3 linked regions of the Homo sapiens genome follow. The protein of the gene in region 1 interacts with the protein of each later gene in a pairwise test. Each region holds a gene or a part of one and is shown in the gene's direction. Other genes may lie near its edges.

What was found. Proteins that work in one complex are often made in the same cells at the same time.
Region 2: the proteins of SH3YL1 (region 1) and PRB3 interact in a two-hybrid assay, tested with the Homo sapiens proteins (one large-scale study listed by BioGRID).
Region 3: the proteins of SH3YL1 (region 1) and SYNJ1 interact in a two-hybrid assay, tested with the Homo sapiens proteins (one large-scale study listed by BioGRID and IntAct).

What each region holds. Positions count from the first base shown.
Region 1 is NC_000002.12:247,033-250,532, reverse strand, and holds part of SH3YL1 (SH3 domain-containing YSC84-like protein 1), read left to right. Parts: intron 1-688; coding exon 689-802; intron 803-2,930; coding exon 2,931-2,995; intron 2,996-3,500.
Region 2 is NC_000012.12:11,266,908-11,271,202, reverse strand, and holds the start of PRB3 (basic salivary proline-rich protein 3 isoform 2 precursor), read left to right. Parts: upstream 1-1,495; 5' UTR 1,496-1,533; coding exon 1,534-1,597; intron 1,598-2,534; coding exon 2,535-2,570; intron 2,571-3,054; coding exon 3,055-4,010; 3' UTR 4,011-4,027; intron 4,028-4,295. UniProt on the Homo sapiens protein: Acts as a receptor for the Gram-negative bacterium F.nucleatum.
Region 3 is NC_000021.9:32,644,514-32,648,013, reverse strand, and holds part of SYNJ1 (synaptojanin-1), read left to right. Parts: intron 1-1,411; coding exon 1,412-1,621; intron 1,622-2,224; coding exon 2,225-2,368; intron 2,369-3,007; coding exon 3,008-3,046; intron 3,047-3,500. UniProt on the Homo sapiens protein: Phosphatase that acts on various phosphoinositides, including phosphatidylinositol 4-phosphate, phosphatidylinositol (4,5)-bisphosphate and phosphatidylinositol (3,4,5)-trisphosphate. Has a role in clathrin-mediated endocytosis.

The sequences.
Region 1 (3,500 bases):
TCAGTGGATACATATACCAATAACCCTCATTTTATGTAATGAACATCTCTGACATGTGAATAAACCAATATTTTTAAATGGAATTATATTATCAGTGTACTAATAGTTAAGTGGTACTCAAATGCTATAGCAGATCATTTTATAAAGTTGAAAATGTTTTAACATTGGAAAATTACTTAATTTTTCTGTTTTTGAATCCAAATTTTTATATTAATACAAGGTTAATTTAGCTACGTGGCTTTAAGATCAAAGTTCTAATTCATGCTGCCTTTTTGTAATTTTTAAAGTTTCTCCTTAATACTATATGGATCTTAATTTCTTTGAAAATGTAGCTTTTATCTTTTATGTACTATATCCTAAATTAATTGAAATTGCCAAAATATTTGCCCTGCTAATAGATAGCAATAAAATCTCTTTCAAATATCTAATTTATTTTGTCAGTTACAGGATGTGAGGATATTTATGATGTTGTGTTTAGCACTGCAAAAATAGCAAACACAAAAAACATTCATGGGAATAGAGAGGCCTCGTGCCCATCTGTTGAGTGACTGACTTTTGTTCATTGCTCCTGTGTGCCCCGAATTCCTAGAGATAACCTCTGTGTACACTGACTCTGTTTAACACTTGCTCGTCTATCCAGGCACATAGATCAAAATGCTTACCTTCCCATTGTTTTCCACGTTAACAGCTCACGTAATTGCGAAGGCTAAAGGCCTTGCAATTCTGTCTGTGATCAAAGCCGGGTTCCTGGTGACTGCCAGAGGAGGCAGCGGGATTGTAGTGGCGCGCCTTCCAGATGGAAGTAAGTTGGCGTCTGTTCACTGGAGTAGAGAGTCTTCATTCTTTGTTCTGTCTGTTTTCATGTGAACACATTGCATAGCGAGTAGGACAGGTTTCCTGCATATCAACTAAAACTTATGTAATAAGGGCTACTCGACTGAACGTGCAGTTTGGTGTCAGTGAACAAGCCACAGGAACCAGCCTTTCCGTCTCTCTCTGTCCTCAAAATATTAGAGAAGACAAGACAGGTAGATATAACTTTGTTTTGCATGCATTTTGTAATTCTTCCGTGGAGCAAATATTGAAACATGGCAGTATGTGCATTTCTTTTGTTTAATATGAATTCTTATTCCTCAACTTCATGGTGTAGCTGCTTTCTTTTGTTTTATGGAAATTGATATGAAAATAAGGGGCCATATGTGAATTTCTTTGTTTCTGTGGTAGATCATAAAAACTGTGACATTTGAAGAGTTTTCCCCAAGGCAGAATCATATCAAGAGCAGTATCATCGAGTTTTACTTTCTGGGATGAAATCTACTACTTGATTCTTTAGAGATGAAATCAAAATATTTGCCATGAATCCCAAGTACTAACATTTATAGTAGTATTTAAAATGGACACAGGTGTGTCAAAACTAACTAAAATGTTTTTTATACCAATTTAACATTTGCTGTTCAGTGAACACGTTTTTCTATTAGTAGCAGTTTTTTAGCATAATTTTATTTTATTTTGAGAGAGCATGGGACACTTACAGACAATAAATATACAATATATACATTTGTGAAATATATGGCCTTGAAATAGCAGTCAGCAGATTCACCATTTCTTACCAAGGTATCCCCGCAGTCAACAAAAACCTCTTCCTTATTATGTGGATCAGTTTTCATAGCTCAATGTGTGGCTTTGAAAATGAGAAGAAAATAATTCTCTTTTTCTCAAGCATTATCCAAATTTCCATGAGCAGACTTCTCAGCAGTAAAACCAAACAAAGTAGAGGCACATTCCAAGGGAGCCCATTGTCAGATGGGACTCAGAGTCTGTGAGAAAGTCCCTGCATGTCTCAGGTCCCCAACTGCTCCATTGATGGGGTGACTTGCTGACCAAGGGTAGGGACAGTCAATACCAAGCCCTGGGCTCCTCTCAGAGCCCCAGCAAACCTTTCTACTGGTTTTAAAACCTACATTTCTCTCCCTTCTTCCTGAGCTGCAGCTGCTGACTCTGCTGAGAGTAATTTAAAAACTGTCCAAATAAGACACAACATGTTCCCCAGGATCCTGGCCAAGACCAGCCATCTTAACACAGGGACAGTTCCTAACATAGGGAACGAAAAATTATCAGACACTAATTTCTGTAAGCCAAACTTCTCTAAGCCTGGGTAGGATAGTTCTGGATATATTTCAGCAATATTCTAGTATCTAGCATGCATGGTAGCAACCATTTTCAAAAAGTGCTTTGGCCAGACCATCCCCCCACCAAATTGAAAATACATTTTTCTAGACTTGTTTAACATGAGTTTCTATATCAAGAAAAATAAGCATATAGTAATCCTAAAATGTGCCGTATCATGGCAAATGGAATTACTGTACTTAGTTTCTAAATGTGATTTATCTTGTTAGAATTTTAATAACCTTGAATTTATAGCCTATTTATTCTGCTTAAGCACGAGAGGTGTTAAAACAGTTTTTGCCCTCAGAAATTTACAATGGAAACAATTATTATGTTACCGTTAGATAATCAACTCTCTCGAATCCTTCTGATCTCTTAAATCTGTGACAAAATTCTAGCTGAAGACTAGACCTACAGCTAAGTTGTTCTATAAAAATATTGACAGTTGAAGTTACCAAGTGCTCTGTATGGCTAATGGTTAGGGAACCAGTAGTTGGTGGTCTTATGCATGTTGGTAGAGAAAGATTAGAGGACATGGGCTTGTGAGGCTATGAGACTCATAATGAATATCTAATACTTTAAAAATATTTTTAACTTTTTAAAAATTACATATTCTTTTTGAAGATCACTTTAAAATCAGGGGAAATACCAAGTCTCATTATTTTCAATAGAAGCACTCTTTAGATTTTAGCATTTTTCCTTCCTATATTTACATGTCGAGGGTGTTTTAATGTTAGGATAACGTTCGTTTGTTTTTTTATTAGAATGGTCTGCACCCTCAGCCATTGGGATAGCTGGCCTTGGTGGAGGATTTGAAATAGGAATTGAGGTAAGTAGCTTGTGCACGTCCATACAACTGCCATATCCTCTGAAGACACCTAAGATGCAACCTGTGAAAACTGAGAGGTTTCCTAGCGTTCTTATTGTTACCATTGGCACTTAGGAAAAATTGTTTCCTTTATTTTCTCGATGAATGTCTAACTAAAGCTATCTGATGGTTCCCATTTACTTTCCTTTTCTTTCCTTAGTAGTAGGATTTCTTTCATTCGCCATTTTATCTGCTTCTGTCTCATGCACATTTGTATAACAGGCACATCCCAACACCTGGCCAGCTGTCATTGGCAGTTTATGGACTGCTCATGGCAAAGCCACTGTTCTCCTTCAGTGGGCATTGAAATTACGTGGGCAGTGCATCATCATTTGTGGCAAAATCCAGTTTTGTAACATATGATATTCAAATCCCTCCACATTCTTTAAGTAAAGAAGAACTTCACGTTATTTCAGTTTATAATGTTGCTCCTGGGATTGTGGCGTCTGTCGGGCAGACATGCACA
Region 2 (4,295 bases), on another chromosome or scaffold:
GTCACATACCCTCTCTACCTCCATCATACCTCCAGCCAAGCTGTCCTCAAATTAATACCAGCCATGCACAAAATGTGAACAATTACACAAGACACACAGAAGGTCTAAGTGGTAAATGGCAGCTGACTCACTGACTAACCTGTATATTCCATGAACTGATGAGCAGGGATTTACTAGGTATAACAGAAGAATCAGCAGCTAAAAGAAGTGCTAACAATGCAGGACTCTGAGAGGGCTTTTTGGAAACACAACATTTATTGTGAAATTACACAGACAAGAATGAAACAAAGGTGGTGAGAATTATAGCTTATTACTTAGAAGATTAAATAAAGGAAATCTTACCAAATTCCTGGGGAAAAAAGCCAGATATATAAAGAAAATTACACAAAATGAGCTTGACTCAGAAAATAAAATATGAACAAAGAAGTACCAGAAAGAACGTCAGGGAGGAATGCATATCAGAATATTGTAGAAAAAATACTCTTTGTGGAAGAACAATCTGAGAAAACAGGTAACACAAATACTGACTAAACCAAGAAAACCAATACAATGCAATTGAGGCTTTAATGAGGGTATCTGATTACCTTATTTGAATGTAGAATTGTAGCCACTTAATTATCAGAGGTAGGAATTCAATACAATTCTTAAAAGAAATGAAGCAGAGGGTGAATTTTGTAGAATATTCTAGAGAAAGGGAAGAGCATGAAGGAAGTTTTGGCAACATGATATTGCATGGTTCCTGCAAGGAACTATATATTCAGTTTTCTCAGGTCTAGAAATTTCCTCGTGGTTTGTGTGTCCATTTTGCATTCATAACCCCTAAAGATACTTTAAAATACACAATTTTGGCCTTCCTGTGTTTCACAACAAGAAGCCTTTCCTGACTTGAGTGAGATCCACAGAAGCATGAACAATAGCTGTAGCCTGAGTAGGCTGTGAGGCAGCCTTCTGTCATCTGTGTGCCCAGGAGTGTGCTGTCCTCAAACATCTCCCAGATAGCAGAAACTATCTCTATCGCATCAAAAGTTAAGCTAAATGTGATACTCTCTGTACACACACATCACGAGAGATGGAAATAGGCTATAAAAACAGCCAGAGATATTGATCATCATCACCGCTGGCTGTAGCTTCACTGCCCACACACACATACACAGAAATAAATAGCAAAGTTGAAAGTGGACAATAGTCTTACCAAAAAGATTGAAACTCTAATGACGTCTGAAGTTCAATTATGACACCGTGCTGATTGCTTGGACACAGTTCCTTTAAAACCTTTGTTCAAGTCATAGTTGTACCTTTTAGAAATAAGGTACAAACAACATCCAACCCAACCTGTTCCTCTGGGCTAGAGTCCCAGACAGAAATAAGGGATACACCTGACCTGCAGTAAGGAAAGCAGAACCCAGTCTCTGGGGTGGTGAGGCCCACCCAGTGTGGAGCTCAAAGGTGCCACTGTTCTGCTCCTCTTTATAAAGGGAGCTGCCATGGTTCTCCCAGCACAGAGTTGGGAGTGACTCCAGAGCCTCCAGCAAGATGCTACTGATTCTGCTGTCGGTGGCCCTGCTGGCCCTGAGCTCAGCTCAGAGCTTAAATGAAGGTAAGACAGAAGGAGGAGAAGATGTGGTGACTCTGCTTGGGGCTTAGGAGGTGATAGTTGTAATTATGGGGAAGAGAGGAGAATGAAAACACAGATGGGGCTGCAGAGGTTTCATGCCTAGGATCAGGAGACCTGTTGTGCCCTCATTCCACACCAAGGGCTTCTAATTTATTTAATGTACAATGAAAATCCAATAAAGAATTTGTACCAGGGGAATGAGAAGGTAAGATTTGCATTTATAGAGAGATAGAACTGTGCTGTGAAGGATGCAGTGGTGAATGCAAGGCAGATTCAGGAAAGTCCAGCTGTGAAGATCCTAAACTGATCTCAGTAAGTACACAGGGATGATTGTGGCCTTGCTCTACCTAGTGGATCAGCATTGATGATGGAGATAAACACACATTAGAGATACTGCAGAGACAGAACTGGATAAAACACTTGCCTGTGTCTAACTACAGATATAGAAATATCAGATTCAATCATTGTGATTTTTCTTTCCCCTACACACAGTATTTCAATGTGCTGGGAGTGGTATAGGTAAGATTGTATTGAAACAATTACTTCTGGTTACCGAAATTGAGAAAGCTTGTGAATATAAGCAATGTATTTATAGGAGATGGAGGGCATAAGAATACCAAAATATCACATTGAAGTACCTGGCATGTGTAAACTAAATTAGCATTAAGTCTTGAAGGATGCTAGGGAAGAAAAAAAGGGGCTCTTCTATATTGAGTTCATGGCTGTTGCTCTGTGTGGTAACAACCCTGCCTCCCCTTACACCTTCCTCCCCTTCCAGCAGCTTCACAGATGGTAGCTGATGAGCTAACCTAGGGGATGCATGGGGTGTGGTGAGAAGTCCCCTTTCCCTGTAGAACACCTGTGAATCTTGCAAAATTCGAGATGTAACCTTTCCCATCATCCTGTGCTTCTCTTCTAGATGTCAGCCAGGAAGAATCTCCCTCCGTAATATCAGGTAAATCCCAATTCACTCTCAATCTGTTTTAACTATCTTCTTCTGCTTATGAATGGATCAGTTCTCCAGTGTCTTCTCACCAACATTTTCCTTTAGAAATTGATTAATATTAGTCCCCCTAATAATGCAGGCAATCTTCATGCAACCTTGATTTTGGGGACCATGAGCAGGGCCACCAAATTGAATGGCAGAGATGCTTGGCTTAGATGAAAACGGGAGTGGGTTGACTTCCCTCCTGCCAGGAGTGCCTGCTGGGAGATGACAGACAAATGGCCAGTGTCCTTATTCTGACTCCTCCTTAGACTGAGAGCCCCTCAACTGCTTCCTTCTTCTCCAGCATTCCACTCCAGAGTTCTAGAGCTTCACTGAAAATGCAAAGAAATTAGTGTCTGGGTCTTATTTTTGTGCATTTCCCCATTTAGCTGCGTTACTGTAAAAATTTGCGGCAACTATTCAGTGAATGCCGTGTGTCCACCTCCTCCAGGAAAGCCAGAAGGACGACGCCCACAAGGAGGAAACCAGCCCCAACGTACCCCACCTCCTCCAGGAAAGCCAGAAGGACGACCCCCACAAGGAGGCAACCAGTCCCAAGGTCCCCCACCTCGTCCAGGAAAGCCAGAAGGACCACCCCCACAAGGAGGAAACCAGTCCCAAGGTCCCCCACCTCGTCCGGGAAAGCCAGAAGGACAACCCCCACAAGGAGGAAACCAGTCCCAAGGTCCCCCACCTCGTCCGGGAAAGCCAGAAGGACCACCCCCACAAGGAGGAAACCAGTCCCAAGGTCCCCCGCCTCGTCCGGGAAAGCCAGAAGGACCACCCCCACAAGGAGGAAACCAGTCCCAAGGTCCCCCGCCTCGTCCGGGAAAGCCAGAAGGACCACCCCCACAAGGAGGAAACCAGTCCCAAGGTCCCCCGCCTCATCCGGGAAAGCCAGAAGGACCACCCCCACAAGGAGGAAACCAGTCCCAAGGTCCCCCACCTCGTCCGGGAAAGCCAGAAGGACCACCCCCACAAGGAGGAAACCAGTCCCAAGGTCCCCCACCTCGTCCGGGAAAGCCAGAAGGACCACCCCCACAAGGAGGCAACAAACCTCAAGGTCCCCCACCTCGTCCAGGAAAGCCAGAAGGACCACCCCCACAAGGAGGAAACCAGTCCCAAGGTCCCCCACCTCGTCCAGGAAAGCCAGAAGGACCACCTTCACAAGGAGGCAACAAACCTCAAGGTCCCCCACCTCATCCAGGAAAGCCACAAGGACCACCCCCACAAGAAGGTAACAAACCTCAACGTCCCCCTCCTCCAGGAAGGCCACAAGGACCACCCCCACCAGGAGGCAATCCCCAGCAGCCTCTGCCACCTCCCGCTGGAAAGCCCCAGGGACCACCTCCACCTCCTCAAGGGGGCAGACCACACAGACCTCCCCAGGGACAGCCTCCCCAGTAATCAAGGTTCAATGACAGGTATGATTCCAGTTTATTCTTCACCAAGTGCTCTAAGTGTTACAGTTCTCCAACTTTATTGTGCCAATGAATCAACTAAAAACCCATTGACATTGTATTGTCCTAGAACCCATTTCTAAAGATTTGTATTCAGATACTCTGGAATAGGGTAAGAAGACCCTGTATTTCTAACAAACTCTTTAAGGAACTCTGATGTTGAGAAACAACATACCATACAATCTGTCTTAAATTGTGTTGGCAATGAGGAAGTAGTACCATGTCCATTCTT
Region 3 (3,500 bases), on another chromosome or scaffold:
ATCTTAAGACTTCCCTCTTCTCTGTGAAGTGTTGAAGTGATCTGCAGGAGTGGGACAGCTCACAGTTTCAGGAGGGTTAAGGAGTTTTGCAGTAAAGCTCCTGAAGAGCAAAGGGTGAGGGGAAGAGCAAACCAGCAAATCATGGAATTGCCAGGCACTTTAGGCCAGAAGAGACTGAAAAGCATAATTTCAAATGTGACTGCAGTTGTCAGGACTGGGTGGTTTTCTTTAGCAGAGGCAGTCAGCAATCCAAGTGTTATCACAGAAAGATTAAACAGGGGAATCAGTGCAGGGATGGGGTTATGTCAAGCACGTGCAATGGAAGAAGAGTGAAGTAGGGTAATGTTTGAGATGAAGAACCATAGAATCTGAAGGTAGGTACAGAAGAAAGCAGAATCAGATGGAGGTAAAAGTTAGAGGGATCAAACCCTGGCTTCTGAAGAAATCAAAAGAGAAGGAGTAGCCAAGGGAGAGAACTGAAAAGCTGGGAGGCCAAAGTCAGAGTGAAGCTTTTGAGTTTATTATTTCAGAAGAGTGCAGTTCTGAGGGGTGAGGGTTAGGAGTGAAGGCGAATGTCCATAAGGATAGGACCAAGGCATTTTGCTATTGAACGAGTTGTCCACATGGACTTTGATGCCACGCAGAAAGATGGTGCGGGACCTGACTTACAGTCTTGCTCTCTGCTTAGTCCTCAGTGAGTGGGTTCAGGAAATGGAAGAATGGACGTTGGAGATGACTGTAGCAAGTGGGGGTAGAGGATGTTACATAAATTCCTGATGGCATAGCCTCAGAGCAGTAGGACTTTTTGTTCAGGGTTGGAAGACTAATGTTCTGGAATGGCAGTTAGGTTGCAAGGGTTACCTTGTGCCCACTTTCCTACCCAGAAGTAAGTGGAGATGAGGAGACCCTGGGGGAGAACCAGTGTTTACTTAATTAAAGCAAAGCGGGTCTTTGTGGGGTGAGGGTTGCAGGGAGGAGCCTTCTGGGGGAAGACTGTGTGGCTCCTGAGAGCTTGTTGACTCTGAGGCTGGACCTGGGTTAGGCAAGGGAGTGGGGCAGTTCCACAGAGCACAGTGGACAGGTTTGGAAGGAGAGCAGGAAACTTGAGTTGGCTTGCACTGGAGAAGCTGCTCTGGGGCATATTGAAAGCCCATTGGGTCACCCCAGCTCCAAGTGGTTGGTCACCTGACATCTTATTGCTCAGAGACAATAGATACCTTTACATCTTCTGAAACAAGCATTTCTACTAATTGTGGTTTTATACATGCCTTCATGCTTAATCCATGTGTGTTTGCAATGACATAATGTTCATATTTGTTTTGTGTATTTTAACTTTTTAAAACCTAAGGTGAAAAAAATCTCTGAGCAAGTTAAAATGGAGTTATCTCTGATCAAGCCTGCTTTTCCTTAGGTGATGTTGATGACTATAGTGCTGAAGTGGAGGAACTTCTTCCTCAGCATCTCCAGCCATCTTCAAGTTCCGGCCTTGGTACTTCCCCCAGCTCTTCACCCCGAACTAGTCCCTGCCAGTCACCTACAATATCAGAGGGTCCTGTACCTTCCCTTCCCATCAGACCAAGCCGAGCACCGTCAAGAACTCCTGGGCCTCCCAGTGCACAGAGTATGCATTTTATTTGAAAGTTTTGTATGGCTTCCTGTGGCCAATGTGCTTGATGTTGGAGAGTCATCGTTTAAGTTTCATACCTAGGTGATAAAGTGCACCCTGTTTTCTCCGGTACAGAATAGGAAAACTTGTAGATGATAAGCTCTCAATGGAAAGGAAACTTGCTATAACTGTCACTAGATGACAATTGTTCTTAATCTTTTTTCTATGTGGTTAGGTTTGTCTATGTCTTATAACTGATGATTTTCTATGGTATGAACCCGTTAACTATTTGAGCTTTTTCTTCTCTCTACTGGCCAGACTACAAAATGGCTTAACTCAAACAATACTTTGTGCATATCAATAGGGCCACTTAGTAAATTAGCTTTCAGCACCTGAGGCCTAGGTAAGAAGTCAGCACAGAGGTAGCATTATTGCTGCCATGGTACCAAAGGGCAGTTTAATAGTAGACTGCTTTTGTTATTCATACTGAAAATACATGCCCTTTCTTTACACCATTGTGCACATTTTATAGAACATTACACATATATATGAAGGACTGTTCCCTTCTGTCAACAGCTACTTAGAAGCTGATCTTCTTACCTCCTGTGCGCTTTTTAGGTTCTCCTATTGACGCGCAGCCAGCAACGCCGCTGCCGCAGAAAGACCCCGCCCAGCCCTTGGAGCCCAAGCGGCCGCCGCCGCCCCGCCCGGTCGCCCCTCCCACACGCCCGGCTCCCCCACAGAGACCTCCTCCGCCTTCAGGTGACAACCTTTTATTTCCATTTCTGCTAGATGTAAAATTCTTCACTCTATTTTAAAATGTTTTGCATGTTTTCCAATCTCTAGCTTCTGGATTTTACAGTTTTTTCTATCATTATTGCTATTTCTTAGCTTTTCTCTAAAGAACATGGTAGGCGCAACAGACAAGGTAGAGTGTTTGCAGAGTAGATTCCTCTAAGGTGTTTTCACAGCTGCCTTTAGCTGCCTTCTCACCAGCCAGCCAGAGAGGTTTATTTTGTTTTTGCTAATTTGATCTAGTTAGGCATGTAAACTGTTCTTAGGTAAAATTAGGTTTAATTTTTTTCAAAATCCTCATTTCTGGATGATTTATAAGCATAAAATAATTAAAATGTACTAATTTCTGTAAAAGTATAATAAAACTGGAGAGCATACGTATTAATGTACAATTGTATGTATTTGTTTAATGTTCTTTTAAATTAAATATAGTGCTGTTACTTCAATTATAAGCATATGCATTGAATAATAGTTTTTGTAGTACGTAGATAATATGTAATTCCTGCATGATACTTGATGTCATGGATACTATAGCAATCTTTGACATTTCACTTCTGTATTTAATGTCATTTCCTTTCTGCTGCCTATTTTCTTATGAACTATAAGGGGCTAGGAGTCCTGCACCCACTAGAAAGGAATTTGGAGGTAACCATTTACATTTGTTAGCATGTGTGAATCGTGGTTCATTAATGTTTTACACCTGAAAGACATTTTAGATTTGTTTGATAAAAGTCAAAATGAATGACATTCTAGTTTAAAACTAATCCACAAATAAAACTAATAAAGGCTTTCATTTCCCAGGTAGGCTGGGATTGTTCATCAGGCCTAATTTTTTTTTTAATAAATGTGGTCGATTCATTTACAAAGATTTAATACCCAAAAGTTATATTAATTTTAAAAGTCATTCAGGTACAGTAAATACAGAACATTTCCCAAGTATCTGATTAGTGATACATTTATTTTCTAGTGGAAAAGCTTTTGGATTAGCAAAGAACTGTATGATTTTCTTTTCCTTTCTTCATAAGGAAATTTTTATTCACAAAGGGTCACTTTTTGTTTGAAGTATAGTTTATTTGGTTTACATGAAAACTCACAGAGC